2 separate regions of the Homo sapiens genome follow, and region 2 is linked to region 1. The links come from fine-mapping of genetic effects on gene expression. Tissue or cell type: testis. Region 1 holds a variant in brackets; the other region holds the start of a gene. All regions are shown on one strand. Distances are from middle to middle.

Region 1 (8,103 bases):
GCCTGGGCAACATAGTGAGACACCATCTCTATGAAAAAATTAAACATTAGCCAGGTGTGGTGGCATGCACCTGTAGTCTCAGCTACACAGGAGGCTGAGGTAGGAGGATCGCTTGAGCCCAGAGGCTGAGGCTGCAGTGAGCAGTGATTGCACCACTGCACTTCAGCCTGGGTGACATTATTTATTATTTATTAAATAAATAATAAAATAAAGTTTGCTTTGACATGACACTTTGGAAATCATGGAACTGCAGGGGCCCCAGGTAGCTGGGGTTGGGGTGACACCCAAGCTTGTCATGGTACTGGGCACCAGCTTGTGCCCAAGTAATTCAGGGCTGAACAACCATACTCTAGAGACTGGGAACCAGAAAAGGCTAGCCTACAGGCTCACCCCTTTCAGTCTCAGCATTTCCTCCCCTCCTTCCTCCAGGGGCAGGGGGAATAGTGAGGAATTAACTCCTCGAAGCAGATGAGGATGAGACCAGACATTGTTTTTACTGGGTCAAACTCACTTGCCCTGCTAGAAACAGAAAGGGTAGGGGCTTTTCTTTTTGTCATAGAGATGCCAGTAAAGTGTGTATGTGTTGGGGCATTGGGGGAGGACACATGTACAATTTTGCACTGGCCCGTTTTCTCCAGCTCCATCCCTGTAGGAGTGTCAAGTTAGGGAAGCACCTGTCAACATAGACCAGGCAGCAGAAACATCGCCCAGTGGAGTAGCCACACTGCGTACCTCCTGGAGTCACCTCCTGGGTCTCAGCATCCATGCCAGAGGGTGGGAAATAAGACACCCAGGAGATGGGGACAGGGGAGAGGAGTCTCATGTTTGGACAGGAACTGGCCCTAAGAGAAGACCCAGCCAGGAACACTGGGTGGGCTCAAGCCTCACCTCTGTGGGTGTCCTCAGAAGCCCCTGCAGAAACATGTGACAGCCAGGCTGACTTTTGGAGTCCTGCCCAATGCTCAGGCTTGAGGTTTCTCTGAGTGAGGATCCAGCTGTGCTCTGGTTGATGTGTTTTCCCTGTGACTCTGTCACGCCCATGTCTGCATGACACCCGGCCTTTGAGCTCCAAGCATATTTTTGAAAAGGCAAAATCTGGGTCAGGCAGTCACCGTCTAAGCAAGGTTTCAGAGGACTTTCCATTCCCCAAGCCCTTCCCTTTGAACTTGGCCAAAACTTTCCTCCTGGGCTGGTATTTCTTCCTTGGAATGATAGCTCAAAGGTGAAAAATGCAGGGCAGAGCTCACCGCAAGTGGGCTGAGTTGTTTTTCAGTATGATGAGTAAATGGGGAAAAGTACTAGCAGCCGAAGCCATCAGCCCCAGCCTGCCCAGGATTGCCCAGCTCTGTACCATGGCCTTGCCAGTCACTTGTGCCATGAGCTGCCACTCTGAGGACCACTCCCTTGGGACCACACATGGTTAAAGCCACCACCTGGCCTTTTCTCCTCCTGCCTCCTGATATGACTCTGTGGTACAAGGGCCATCCACAGAGCTCCCAGCTGCAGACATGTGTTCCTGCTCAGACAGGGCCAGAAGGCACTGCCAACCTCGGTGCCATTGCTCTGGGAGCTGACCGTCCTCCAGTTCCTCTTCCTGGAATCCTCGGGTTATTCATGTCTGTGTGCCTGGGCTCCTGGCTAGGTTGGCCAGTTCAAGCTAATTTGATTCTGGAAGACTTTTCCCAGTAGTAGCAGCACGAAGTGACTGCTGCTTGATTCCTGTGGATATGTGTATGATTTGGGGGATGGAAGTGGAAGGGAGGCTTCCTTTCTCTGGAATCCCAAGGAGTGGAGCATAGCTCAAAGGAACAACCATGTGTGAGAGACACCTCTATCACCTGGAGCCATCTAGCTGCCCCCCAGCATCCAGAGGAAAAGGAGCCTCAGAGCCTCTGGGCCACTCCCAAAGGAGTCCAGAGAAAGTCTTGGATCTGGTAGCCTGCTGCCCCCCAACTGCATGGGGAGGTGGAGATGGACTGTCAGCCAGGTGGACGTCCTCCAAGCACTGAGGGAACTGCTGGTGATGGACGCACCTGCCGGAGCCAGAGCCTTAGACCAGGGTTTGTCTTGCTGGTCTGGAGGGTGGAAAGGCAGGATCCTCAGAGATTGGCCGAGCACCAACCTCCTCCACATGAAATCCCTCTTCCTGTGCTGTCAGAGCTAGATTGTTCTGGCAGAAATGGAGCTTTTCCTTTTTCATTTTTACTTTCATTTTGGTGTAGAGTTCCATGAGTTTTAACACATGGATAGATTCACATACCCACCAGCACAGTTCAGGAGTACAGGCAGTTCCGTCACCCCAACACCTCATGCTGCCTTTTCTCGTCACACTCTTCCCCAACCCATAACCTTGGTAACGACTGATCTGTCCTCCATCACCATGGTTTTGTCTTTTCCAGGATGCTTTATAAAGGAATCATCGAGTCCGTAGCCTTTGAGACACGCTTCTTCTATTCCGTGATGCCTTTGAGATGCACCATGTCATTGCCTGTATCAGTAGTTTGTTCCTTGTGTTGCTAAGTGGCATTCCACTGCATGGGCGCGCCGTGGTTCATCTATTCCCCTGATGAAAGACATGTGTACTGTTTCAAGGTGGGTTTTTGTTTTTGTTTTTGGCCTTTGTGAATAGAGCTGCTATAAACATTCATGTACAGGTTTTTTTGTGAACAAAAGTTTTTTATTTCTTCAGGGCAAATACCTAGGCGTGAGCTGTATCCTATGGTAAGTGTGTGTTTAGCTTCATAAGAAATTGCCAAATTCTTTTCCAGAGTGGTTTTACAATTTTGCATTCTCATCAGCAATGGATATCCTTTCTTTTTTACTTTTATTTGAAAACAAAGTCATCTTCCCGCCAAGGTGAAGGGTAGGGACATAAGGAACTGAAATAAAAGCTAAGTCCAGAAATGAAATACAGAGTGATTGTGAGCCATTTGTGGCTTTCCCAAAATACCAGGTGTTCTTAAGGCTGAAAGCACCTCAAGTTGAAGCTCCAGGTGGACACAGTGGGATGTGAACTTTGGGAGAAGAGATAGGGCAGGTCCCTGGAGAACTGGGTCTTAGGGCTCTGCTGTGTGCCTGAGGGCAGGTTACTGTGCTGCTCCAAACCTCAAGTGTTTACTGGGATCAACTCTTGCAGGTTTGATAAGGTCACAATTTGTGGTGTTTCAATTGTTACGTGATCCAGGCTTTGTGGTGAACATCAGAAGAAGCTCTAAATAAAGGTTTAGGATGCACACAGCCTGCTTCCATGCCATGTGGAAGCAAGAACTCCTCCAGAAATATTGAGGCAAAGATACTTTGTAAACATGCAAAAATCCAAAAATGCTTTGCTTAACAACAGAGAAGTTTCCAGTAGTGTGGGAACTGTTCTCAGATGTGTGGGGCCAGGAACAGATCTGATGCAGAGGATACAGTTCCATTCTGGAGAAAGTGGCTGAATACGTTTGTGGTTGTGTCTCTGAACTTTCTCTCTGGACCATTTCTATGCCTTCTGCCCCTCCTCGTCTCCCTGGGATCTTCAGGATCCCAACTTCCACTCCGCAACTAAACAACGAATTCTCCAGAGCATAAGGTTGAGAGCTTGGGCTGTGAATCAGGAAGACCTGGTTTAAAGCTGAGCCACCTTCTCGCTGGGGTAACGACGGATCAATTACTCAACCTCACTGGACCTCACATCTCCCATTTGTAAATGGGGGTAATAAGAATGCCTCCGTCAGCAGCCTATTCTGAGGACTAAATGAGGCAATGCCTGCACAGCCTTTACTGTAGGTCTGGTACACGGTATGTTTGCAGGAAAAATTAGTTATGTTTGTATGTTGTTGGGTTATTTTTTTTTCTCTTTTTTAAAAAATTTTTTTTCTCTTTTGAAAAAATCATCAAAGAAGAACATTGGCTCTCAGATCTCTAAGATCTCTCCCAGCTCTTATGTTACACGTAACAGAGGGGGGCCTACTTCATGCATTCTGGAAATTGAAAGCTATGCCACATCAGTTTTCTGGAAACAAGGGCTACCAGGAAAGAAGGGTCAGTTCGGGCCCCATTTTCGCCACTGAACCCAA[A/G]CTGACCTCTGCATCTGTTTTGCTGATTGTTGGAGACCGGGTTCTAGAGCTCCCCATCACTGATAGAAGAATCACTCCTGAAAGGTGAAAGGTCCGGGGCCAGGGCTTCCGAAAGGCCTGAACAACAGAGGAAGGGAGGCTCTGTGTTCCTCTCCCACCTGCACAGATCAGTCAGTCACTCTGTTCTACAGGGACTCTCTGTAACTCATGAGAGGGACTCTGGAGGGAGACCCCTCTGTAACTCTCTGTAACTCTTTGAGGGACTCTGAAAACTCATGTATGAAACTGCAGAAGTCTGCTTCTAGACTTTGCCTTGGCCATGTGAGGTAAAGGGCCCTTCAACCCCTGCCCCCTACCTTGTAAATGTGCAAATGGACTCACATTTGAACCTCAACAGGTTCCTGAAAATCGAATAATAAAATAGATTGCTGTAAAGCAGCCCATATTTTCCCATAGCCACAGGGTTGTAATTGGTGATTACTAGCCTGATCAGTGGTAACTCGACAGCAAATTTATCACTGATGTGACCAACAATGTCATAAAGTGAATACTGTGTGTCTCTATAACCACTGAAAATACTCAAGTTATGCTCCAGGTCCTATAAAATGGGCGTAAATACACTGAACACTTCACTGAGGGAAGGGAACCAATGACCTATATGCAATATATGGGCAGCTATAAAAAATACAACCAGGCCATAAATTTGAATGAAAACCAATATTCTAGCCTTAATGGACATGAATTAAACATTTAATTAACACCAGTTTGCCCTACTTGCTTAGAATTCCAAATGAATTTGGAATGGATCATTTGGGCAGGTTGGGTGTCTTTTAAGAATGGCCCAGGGAAGCTTAAGTTGTTACCTTTGTCCCTCAATAAATGAAGATCCCGAGGGGAGCAGTGCCACCAGCTCACGGCATGGAGCGGTGAAAAAGGATGGTGTTCACCCCGCTGAACCACACGTTCTGAAGGCGGGGCTGCCCCACAGAGCACACACCAGCTTCTCCTGCCTCAGCTTAGATGCAGCTGAAGGGGAAGTCGCCCTGCCCAGGTAGCCAGCAGGGCTGGTGGCCTGCTGTCTGGCTGCTAAGCCCAGGGAGGGAGGCAGTTTTGTGGATTCACAGGAGTGCTCCGAGGACCCACCGTTGTCAGGATCCCGGAAAGCTGGCTGAAATGCAGATCCCTCACTCTGACATCCTGCGTCAGTACGGCTGAGAATTCTGCATTTAAGCGACCCCTTGATGCTCATTCTGGTGCACACTGGGGCTTGAGACTCCCTGCAATGGGAGGTATTCTCATCTCAGCCCCCTCCTGGTCATGCATAGTCAGCCACCACTGTTCCCTCAACTACACAACAAAATTGAGTATCGTGGCCTCCTCAAACCCATTTCATAACTATGCAGGCATTCCTCGTATGTGCAGACTGGTTCTGGGCCCCCCATGGATACCAAAATCCACAGGTGCTCAAGCCCCTAATGTAAAATAGTATAGTATTTTCATATAACCTATGCACATCCTCCCATTTACTTTAAATCATGGGTGTCCAATCTTTTGGTTTCTCTGGGCCACATTGGAAGAATTGCCTTGGGCCACACATAAAATACACTAACACTAATGATAGCTGATGAGCTGAAAGAAAAAAAATCTGCAAAAGATTCTCATAATGTTTTAAGAAAGCGTATGAATTTATGTTGGGCCACATTCAAAGCTGTCCTGGGCCACATGAAGCCTGTGGGCCGCGGGTGGGACAAGCTTATTTTAAATCATCTCTAAATTACTTATAATTCCTAATGCAAAGTAAATGCTATGTAAATAGTTGTCATACTGTATTTTTATATATATTATTTCTTATTGTATTATTTTTTATCATTTTTTCCCAAATATTTTTGATCTGCCCTTGTTTGAATCTGAGGATACAGAACCCGCAGACACAGAAAGCTGACTATATTTCTAATTTTTAAAAGTCTTAATTATACAGGTAATAAAGGAATGCATATTAGTTGTTTTAAAAGAAAAGCAGAACACACAGCAAAACTTAAACACACAAAGTGAATGTCCTCCTTTCCCATCTCACTTCCTTCCTTGGAGGAAACCCCTGTCAATCGTTGGTTGCACATCTTTCCATACTTTTTAAAAATGCAATTGCAGGCCGGGCGCGGTGGCTCACGCCTGTAATCCCAGCACTTTGGGAGGCTGAGGTGGGCAGATCATCTGAGGTCAGGCGTTCGAGATCAGCCTGGGCAACATGGCAAAATCCCATCTCTACTAAAATTACAAAAATCAGCCGGGCGTGGGGGTGGGAGTCTGTAATCCCAGCTACTCGGGAGGCTAAGGCAAGAGAATCATTTGAACCTGGGAGGTGGAAGTTGCAGTGAGCCGAGATCGTGCTACTGCACTCCAGCCTGGGCAACAAAAGCAAAAACTCCGTCTCAAAAACAAACAAACAAACACATTTGCATACTCATAATTTGAGCTTCTCCTTCTTTACACAAATGGCATCCTTCTACTCACATTGGTGAGGAACTTGCTTTTTTCACTTTATGTCTGGAAACCATTCCATGTCTTTCTTATACTTTTTTCTATTTATTTTTTATTTTTAACTTTTATTTTAGGTTCAAGAGTACATGTGCCTGTTTGTTATATAGGTAAATTGCATGTCATGGGGGTTTGGTGTACAGATTACTTGGCTACTCAGGTAATAAGCATAGAACCCACAGGTAGTTTTTCAATCCTCACCCTCCTCCTTCCACCCTCAAGTTGGCCCCAGTGTTTGTCGTTCCCTTCTTTGTGTCCATAGGCACTTGATGTTTAGCTCCCACTTATAAGTGAGAACATGCAGTATTTAGTTTTCTGTTCCAGTGATAGTTCACTTAGGATAATGTCTTCCAGCTCCATCCATGTTGATGCAAAGGACATGATCTCGTTCTTTTTCACGTCCATGTAGATTCCATATATGTACCACATTTTCTTTATCCAGTCTACCACTTATGGGCATTTAGGTTGATTCTGTGACTTTGCTATTGTGAGTAGTGCTTTGGTGAACATACACGTGCATGTGTCTTTATAGCAGAACAATTTATATTCCTTTGGGTATACACCCAATAATGGGATTGCTTTTCTCATCCTTTTTCTCTGTTGCTCCATGTTCCATACCAGGGTTATACCATGGGTTATTTGATCACTCCTTTACTGAGGTAAGTCTAAATTTCCTTTTTTCCTGGTAATGAACCATGTTTCTTTGCCCAGGTCCTTGGGTTCATTCAGAATTTATCAAGCACTTCCCAGGCCCAGGCATAGGACTAGGTGCTGAGAGGAGGCAGACAGCACTGGGATTGATCACGGGAGGGCAGGCAGCTCTGTTCACCACCCATACTTCAATAAAAGCCTTTAAACCATTACCAGGCCATTCGCTCAAACATGACCACCTCTACGAACTTGCCTACACCTCAGTGGAGGGTCCTTATCGCTTCATACCTGGCGTGATGGTTAATTTTAAGCGTCAGCTTGACTGAATGAAGGACTCTATAGAGAGCTGGTAAGGCATCACTTCCCAGTGTGTCTGTGAGGTTGCTTGGAGGGGAGACTGGCATGGGAGTGGGTGGACTGGGTGGGGAAGGTCTGCCCTCAGTGTAAGTGGGCACCATCTAATCAGCTGGGGGCCTGAATAAAACGAAAAAGGGCAGAGGAAAGGTGATCGCCTCTCTTTCTCCTAGACCTGGGACACTCTTCTTCTCCTGTCCTTGGACATCAGAAATTCAGGCTGTCAGGCCTTGGGACTCAGAACTTATGCCAGCAGCCCCCAAGCTTCTTAGGTCATCAGCCTCAGACTGAGAATTACACCATCAGCTTCCTTGGCTCTGAGACTGAGCCACACTACAGCATCCCAGGGTCTCCAGCTTGCAGATAGTCTGCTGTGGCACTTCTCAGCCTCCAAACTGCGTGAGCCAGTTCCACTAAGAAATCCCCTCTATATATGAGTATGTGTGTGCGTGTGTGTTTGTATGTGTGTGGAGAGAGAGAGAGAGAGAGAGAGAGAGAGAGAGGG
Region 2 (8,103 bases), 960 kb after region 1:
CACACCTGTAATCCCAGCACTTTGGGAGGCCAAGGTGGGCAGATCACCTGAGGTTGGTTTCATGTGCGTCCGTGTGAAGAGACCACCAAACAGGCTTTGTGTGAGCAACATGGCTGTTTATTTCACCTGGGTGCAGGCGGGCTGAGTCCGAAAAGAGAGTCAGCGTAGGGAGATAAGGGTGGGGCTGTTTTATAGGATTTGGGAAGGTAATGGAAAATTACAGCCAAAGGGGGTCGTTCTCTGGTGGGCAGGGGTGGATCTCACAAAGTACATTCTCAAGGGTGGGGAGAATTACAAAGAACCTTCTTAAGGGTGGGGGAGATTACAAAGTACATTGATCCATTGATCAGTTAGGGTGGGGCAGGAACAAATCACAATGGTGGAATGTCATCAGTTAAGGCTGTTTTTACTTCTTTTGTGGATCTTCAGTTACTTTAGGCCATCTGGATGTATACGTGCAAGTCACAGGGGATGCGATGGCCTGGCCTGGGCTCAGAGGCCTGACAGTCGGGAGTTCGAGACCAGCCTGAGCAATGTGGAGAAATCCCGTCTCTACTAAAAATACAAAATTAGCCAGGCATGGTGGCGCTTGCCTGTAATCCCAGCTACTCAAGAGGCTGAGGCAGGAGAATCGCTTGAACCTGGGAGGCAGAGTTTGCAGTGAGCTGAGATCACGCCATTGCACTCCAACCTGGGCAACAAGAGCAAAACTCCATCTCAAAAAACAAAACTCGAACATCCCTAAGAGTATTTCTGCTCCCTAGAACCTATGCCAACACCACCCTCAGGGTCCACATGATGAGTCTTCCCATACATATTATTCTCATGTAATATAACCATTTCATAAAGAAGGGACCGTCCCCCATTTTACAGATGAGGAATCAGAGGCACGGAAGGATAAAGTGACCCCATCCAGGTGGTATTCCCAAGCCTAGTGTTCATCCCACTGTACTGTAGCTAATGTCTCTGAGGGCAGGTAACTTGAAACAAGGTCTGTGTGGAAAGCAAACTCCTTGCAGAGAATTTCAACGCAATCTAAGTGAATGCAGAAAACCCTTGAATTCTGTTCTTCCCTGGGCGATTGTGAATGCTGTCCGAGAGTGTGTCTTTCCAGGCAGGGAGCCAGTGTGCTGGGCTCACAAGTTCTCATCGCTTCCCTTTTTGATACCGTCTCATTACTTTTAATTGCATCTGAGTCTTTCTAGCATCTTGTATTTTGCTTCCTAATCCAGGGCATTTCTCTGCCTCCCACTGGTCCAGCACAGCACTTCTCTCTCTCAGAGCTCTCCAGAGAGGTGCCCCCAGAAAATGGAGCTGGTCTTCTGTAATGAATTCATCTCTGTAATGAATAGTATAATATCCAAGTCCCAGCATATTTACATAGCAATCTTCACACAAAAGCAACATTACAAAGGGAAGATTTTTTTTTTTTAAAGAATGCCATCTCAAAGCTCCATTTCCTATAGTACGAAGAACACTATTGGAATTACCCTGACAGGAAAACAAAAACAACTTCCAGGGATGCTGGGTGAGAGACAATAGTTAAACCAGACCCATTAATGTTTAAAATCAATGGAGCATAAAACTGCTTTTCTCTACTTACAGCCAGGCATCATCATACAGAAAGGAGGAAAACATTACCATTTTAACTCTACTGAAATCCGTAAGCCCTCCCCTAATTTTCATTCCTCTCGAAATTCTCCAGTAAGTACCATCGGAATGAAAATGAGAATCAGTCTCTCCGGGGGGAATGGCTTCCAGTCCTCATCAGTAAAGTGTGTGAACAGCCCTCGGGAGATGGAGGTGGGAGGCTGCCCACTGGGAAAGTCTCCATCACTCAAACCTGCAGAACTAGTTGCGGAGACTCACTGTGGGGCATGGGAGCCTCCGGGCTGACTTCAGTAAAGCCCTACACAATCCCAGGTCAGGGTAGACCTGAGGCAGAATTTAAGAAACCTGGCAAGTGCACAGAAGTAATACCCTCAGGGTACGTTTCACCTAGTGGGCTGCATGGGGGGGATCTTCAACATTATTATGTTAAATGCTCCCCAGGGGGGACTCGCTGGAATTGAGCCAGACCTCTGTTAGTAAACCGCTGGACCTAATCCTACATTTGTGTAATGCCTGACAACACCCGTTCCCATTATCTTATTTGATCCTGAAAACAATCCTCAGAGGGAGGCCAGGCAGGGATTATTTCTCCTATTTACAAGTGAAAACACTTGTAAACTGATTTGCCTGGAGTCCCACACCCAGGATGTGGCAGGAATGAGACTTGGATCTAGGTCTTTGTACAACCTGTTCTGGGTTCTTTTGACTTCACACAACAGACTGATCAAAACATTCCCAGCCCCACCCACTCCTCACAACCACCAGCTTAACCAGCAACTGGAAACTCACCAGACAGCTTGTGTTTATGCTACCCTCACACCTCTGTCCTAGTGAAGAAACACACCTTTGGCTGGCAAGCTCTCCAGGAAAAAATTAATTTCATGTCATCTCCTTGAAACAAAGACCAACATTAATCCCAGATGGATTTGAAAAAAAAATCAAGGCATTTGAAAAATCTAAAGAAAATAGAATGGAATATTTAATAACTTTCTGGCAGCAAGGAGACTCCAAATTTAGCATCGTGTTAGAAATTTCAAAGAGATTTTAAAATTTGCCTACATGAAAATTTGGTTTTAGTGGGGGAAAAAATGACTGTACAGAGCCAACAAAAGCCTGGAGACGTATTTGCGGCAAAATATGAAAAGGGTTAACATTTGGTATGTAAAGGAGTCATGCAAATACGTAAGAAACACTCCCTAGGAAAATCTTATTAGGAAATAGACAATTCATAAGAAAGGAAGTACAGTTTGTTAACAAACATTTAGAAAACTGCTCTACCTAACTGAAATCAAAGATATGCAAACTGAAGGGAGAAAATTTCCCTATATAATCCGCAAAAAAAAAAAAATTCAATAATACTCAAATACTAGTGAAGGTGTAATGATGTATGCTCAAGCATTAATGATGGTAGAGTACATTTACCTAACTCTTGGAAAGACACTTCCTGAACATTTATCAGTAAACCTTAAAATACCCAACTACTGTGACTTAAAATTCCACTCCTGGGAATATGCCCTAAGGAAAGAATCATCAATATCTTAAAGTGTCGCGCACAAAAATGTTAGTTACACACTTAACGATGGTGAAATTAGGCAAATGTTAAAAACATAGGCACTTGATGGAAACTTATGTAATCATTAAAATGTTTTCAAAGTGCATGCAATAACACGAAAAACGTTTATGATGTAAGGCAAAGTGGAAAAGTGTGTAACACTGTATGCATGTGTTTGTATACTACACTTTCATAGAACAAAGGCTAAAAAGGAAAAAAATTTAAATGTGAACCATGAGAGATTTTTTCCATCCCTTATATTTTTCTTTTTTTTTTTGAGACGGAGTCTCGCTTTGTTGCCCAGGCTGGAGTGCAGTGGCGTGATCTCGGCTCACTGCAACCTCCGCCTCCAGGGTTCAAACCATTCTCCTGCCTCAGTCTCCCGAGTAGCTGGGATTACAGGCGCCCGCCACCACGCCCGGCTAATTTTTGTATTTTTAGCAGAGATGGGGTTTCACCATGTTGGCCAGACTGGTCTGGAACTCCTGACCTCAGGTGATCCGCCCGCCTCGGCCTCCCAAAGTGTTGGGATCACAGGCATGAGCCACCCACCGCTCCTGGCCAATCCCCTATATTTCTATTTGAACCTTAAAAAAAAAAAAAGACCCTTCTTTAGCCGAGCGGCGGTGAGTCCTATTCTCATGATATGTCCGGGGGCTTGAAGACTGCGGGAGGGAAAGCCTCTGGGACCTCACCTCAGAGCGATTCTGCTCTGCTTCAAAGCGTCCCCTCTTAGGCCGGGCGCGGCGGCTGACGCCAGTAACCCCAACACTTTCGGAGGCCGAGGAGCGAGGACTCCTTGAGCCCAAGAGTTCGAGACCAGCCTGGGCAATATAGTGAGACCCCCCCCCCCCACCACCGTCTCTACAAAAAAAATTTTTTTAATTAGCCAGGCGTGGTGGCCGCGCCTGTGGTCCCAGCTGCTCCGGAGGCTTAAAGTGGGATGATTACTTAAGCCAGAGTTCGAGGCTGCAGTCAGCCGTGTTCGCGCCACTATACTTCAGCCTGGGCGACAGAGACCTTTTCTAAATAATAAATAAGTAAATAAGTAACGTGCCGCCTCTTCACTCCCAATTCCCTCCGCCTTTCCCCGCCCCGCCTCGTCGAAGCCGGACCCGCGGCGGCCCGCCCCTCCCCCACGACCAGGGCCGGGAACTGCGGGTGCGCGGGGCGGGAGTCGGGCGGGCTTAGGCGCGGCCGACACGTGGGGAGGGAGGCCGCGGCCCAGGAGGCGGGCCCGGAGTGGGTGTGGGTGTGTCCGTGCGTGGGAGAAACCAACCTCAGCCTCCTCCGAGGCGCCACGTTTCAGCACGGCTCGTTGGGCCCGGGAGGTCGGAAATCAGTCCCCACGCCCCGGACCCCCTCCTGGAGGGACAACGAACACAGGCGCGGGACGGCTTCGGTCACCGCCCGCGCCGCCCTTTGCCCCCGTGCCTGCTCGCGCGTCACCCCCGCCCCGGTGCGGTGGTAGGGCCCGGCGCGACGTCACCCATTGTTTACAAATCAACCCGAGCCGGCAGGATTCCGGCTCCAGCGGCTGCAGGCGCGTGGCTCGAGTGCCTGGCGGGCTCCGGCTTCCGCGTCCGCCCCTGCTCCGGCTTCGCCCGCAGCTCCGCGCCCGCGGGCAACCAAGCCCCCAGCGAAGCCCGCACAGCTCCGGGTGCCAGGACGGGGGGCCATGCCGTGCCGGAGGGAGGAGGAAGAGGAAGCCGGCGAGGAGGCGGAGGGGGAGGAAGAGGAGGACGACAGCTTCCTCCTGCTGCAGCAGTCGGTGACGCTGGGCAGCTCGGGCGAGGTGGACCGGCTGGTGGCCCAGATCGGCGAGACGCTGCAGCTGGACGCGGCGCAGGACAGCCCGGCCTCGCCGTGCGCGCCCCCGGGGGTGCCGCTGCGGGCCCCGGGGCCCCTGGCTGCGGCGGTGCCGGCGGACAAGGCCCGGCCCCCGGCGGTGCCGCTGCTGCTGCCGCCCGCTTCGGCTGAGACGGTGGGCCCGGCGCCCTCTGGGGCCCTGCGCTGCGCCCTAGGGGACCGCGGCCGCGTGCGCGGACGCGCTGCGCCCTACTGCGTGGCGGAGGTCGCCGCAGGCCCCAGCGCGCTGCCGGGGCCGTGCCGGCGAGGATGGCTCAGGGACGCGGTCACCTCCCGCCGCTTGCAGCAGCGCCGATGGACCCAAGCCGGGGCACGCGCCGGCGACGACGACCCGCATCGGCTCCTCCAGCAGCTCGTGCTCTCGGGAAACCTCATCAAGGAAGCCGTGCGGAGACTCCAACGAGCCGTCGCCGCGGTTGCAGCCACGGGCCCCGCAAGCGCCCCTGGGCCCGGGGGAGGCCGCAGCGGACCTGACCGCATTGCCCTGCAGCCCTCAGGCTCCTTGCTCTGACGCAGGCCTCCTGGAGGAGGAAGTGGAGGCCGCTGCGTAGACCCAACAGCGTCCAGTTCCTACTAACTCTGAGCTGAAGCCGACGTCGCCAGCCTGGGAGCGACCACTTTGGCTGCGGGGAGGCGCGTGGGGAGAGATCTCAACCAGAGAAGTTACCAGCCGCGGCGAGGCCGTCGGAGAAAACTTAAGCGTGGAGAAATGTATGCGCCAGGGTGCTTCCGTGGGGCATGAGAATTTCCCGGGCCATCCAAGCCCAAGGACCTGGGATAAACTGGGAGAACTATGGCAGCTACTTGCATCGACTTGTACCTCACTTAGCCCTTGGGGGCGTCGTGAGCTTGGATTGTTTAAGGAGGGCTCAGGGGTAGGAATCGCGATGGCTTTATAACAATACTTGAAAACTAACGACACGCATACATTTTCTTATTTTCTGGTGGAGGAGCTTAGTAAGTGGTGCTACAATTGCTGTGCAAAGAAATTCCAGAGGGGAGAAGAATGTAAAAGTTTGGTGGTGGGTGGCTTGGCATTGCCCCTTTTTCCCACCGATTCGGTGGCTGGTGAAGGTGGGAGATGTGAACTCCAATTAAGGGACTGGAGAGAGGTGAAGAATTTTGCAGGTGGGAGATTTGGATTTGAATGTGGACTTGTAAATGACTTGACCTTGCCATCTGTGTTCAAGGTCACGGTTTGCTGTGGGGTTCCTGGGAGAGCTTACTCACCCCGGAGTCTTTTCTTTCTCTTGCTCCAAGAAGAGCCCTGTTGGTGCTTTACCACCGCTTGGAGTCTCCCGAGGACACAAACAGGCAGAGAGGGACGTGTAGGGAGAGTTCTTTCCTGTTTTCTGTGCTTTCCTTTTTACAGGACTCCCGGAAGGCCACTCATGGCCATGCCAGGAGCTTTCTCAGAAACAGTCATAAACGATCTCTTGAGTCTCTTTCTTGTCCTCCCAGCTGAGCTTTCTTATTCCACCCTTTCTGGTGTCTATAGGAATGCATGAGAGACCCTGGACGTTTTTCTGCTCTCTTCTGGCCCTCCATGGAGTCATGGGCCTCGGCCTCGGCGGCTCCTCACCCTCACAATTTATTTCCTCCTCCCGTGCCAGCCCTTCTTTTGTGTCTGAAACCGGTTTTAAAATGTGACTCTCCCAGAGAAGAAGCCGCTGGCTGTATGAAACTTGACGGCGCTTTTGTAAGGTGCCACCCCCAAACTTTAAGGTAGCTAAACCAATTTTTAAAAGATTCAATGGCTTGTTCATCCTCCAGATGTAGCTATTGATGTACACTTCGCAACGGAGTGTCTGAAATTGTGGTGGTCCTGATTTATAGGATTTCATAATTAAAATGTCTGCTGAATAAATTTGGCTTTTGTTTTGGAGCACGGTTTGGCATTTTGGTGGAAGGTGGGAGAGGGGCAGAAAAGCATATGGGGATGTCCTTAATAAAGAGGGCACTTGGGCTAAACCGGGGGGGGGGGACCTGGACAAATGGTTTGGGCCAATGCTGATGGGCACAGAATCCTAGTAGAGCCACAGGACTTGAGTGCTTCTAAGTTTTTATTCCACAAGATCAGAAAATTGAGTCCAGGTTTTTAGAAGCTGCAAGATGGGCTTCCACTCCCTTTGTGGAAAGACAATGTATTCTAGAAATGCTTTCTGGGCTGGAGAGCAAAGAGGTGCTGTGGTGGAGGGAGGTGGGTTTTCATCTGGACGTTTTTGTGCAAAATGGGGAGGGCACAGGCGAAGCCAGCCTGCTTTCCCCTTTGAGACTGACCTAGTCTTGAGCTATGGCCTTGGGAGAGAAAAACAGGGTTTTACAGCAGTGTATTTGGTAGTTGTAAAATGGCTTGGTTTGAGCACTCAGGGGTTAGATTTGACCGAAGTAGCCCTCCTCCTCTCCTCATTCTCTCTCTGCCCTGTCTTCCCAGGCATAGAGCCCTTGCTGAATCCCTTCCTAGTTCCTGCCTTGCCCTTTTCTCTTTTTAATTTAATTTTATTATTTTGAGATGGTGTCTTACTCTGTAACCCAGGTTGGAGTGCAGTGGCACGATCTTGGCTCACTGCAGCCTCAACCTCCTGGGCTCAAACAGTCCTCTCACCTCAACCTCCTGAGTAGCTGGGACTACAGGCTCATACCACCATGCCAGGCTAATTTTTTATATTTTTAGTAGAGATGGGTTCTCACTGTGTTGCCCAGGCTGGTCTTGAACTCGAGCTCAAGTGATCTGCCCTCCTCGGCCTCCCAAGGTGCTGGGATTAAAGGCGTGAGCCACCACACCTGGCCCCTGCCTTGCCCCTTCCTTGCCCAGCTCTACTAACCCAGCCCCCGGGGAACCTCTCCTGCTCAGCACACTCCCGAGGCTGGGGCTGCAGAGGAAGGCTGATGCTCAGTTGCCTCAGCCCTTTCTGCTCACCAGCTGTGTCATGGTGGGCAAGTCAAGACTCTGAGTTTTTCCCTTGTGATTTGTAAAACAATAGTACTTAATAGGGGAGTTGGAAGGGTTAAATGAGGACTTGAAGGGGAGACTTCATTGCTCAAAAAGTGATAGCTGCTCATTCTTGGTA

What was found. PIP is the estimated chance that this variant, and not a neighbour inherited with it, causes the effect.
Region 2: FRAT2 starts here. The variant in region 1 is fine-mapped to the expression of FRAT2 in testis (GTEx, PIP 0.97).

What each region holds. Positions count from the first base shown.
Region 1 is chr10:98,287,109-98,295,211 of GRCh38, reverse strand. No RefSeq gene overlaps it. Among named protein-coding and RNA genes, the nearest start is that of LOXL4, 23 kb to the right of the region's middle. The variant A/G (reference allele first, on the strand shown) is at 4,059.
Region 2 is chr10:97,331,311-97,339,413 of GRCh38, reverse strand. FRAT2 (FRAT regulator of Wnt signaling pathway 2) reads left to right here and starts at 4,685. Exons shown (of 1, transcript NM_012083.3): 1 at 4,685-6,917. The coding sequence starts at 4,842. The coding sequence ends at 5,543. LOC105378448 (a long non-coding RNA gene) reads right to left here and starts at 4,568. Exons shown (of 2, transcript NR_188201.1): 1 at 4,443-4,568. RefSeq lists enhancers at 2,011-2,529, 5,067-5,974 and silencers at 4,117-4,466, 4,597-4,746, 4,837-4,986, 5,327-5,456, 5,467-5,516.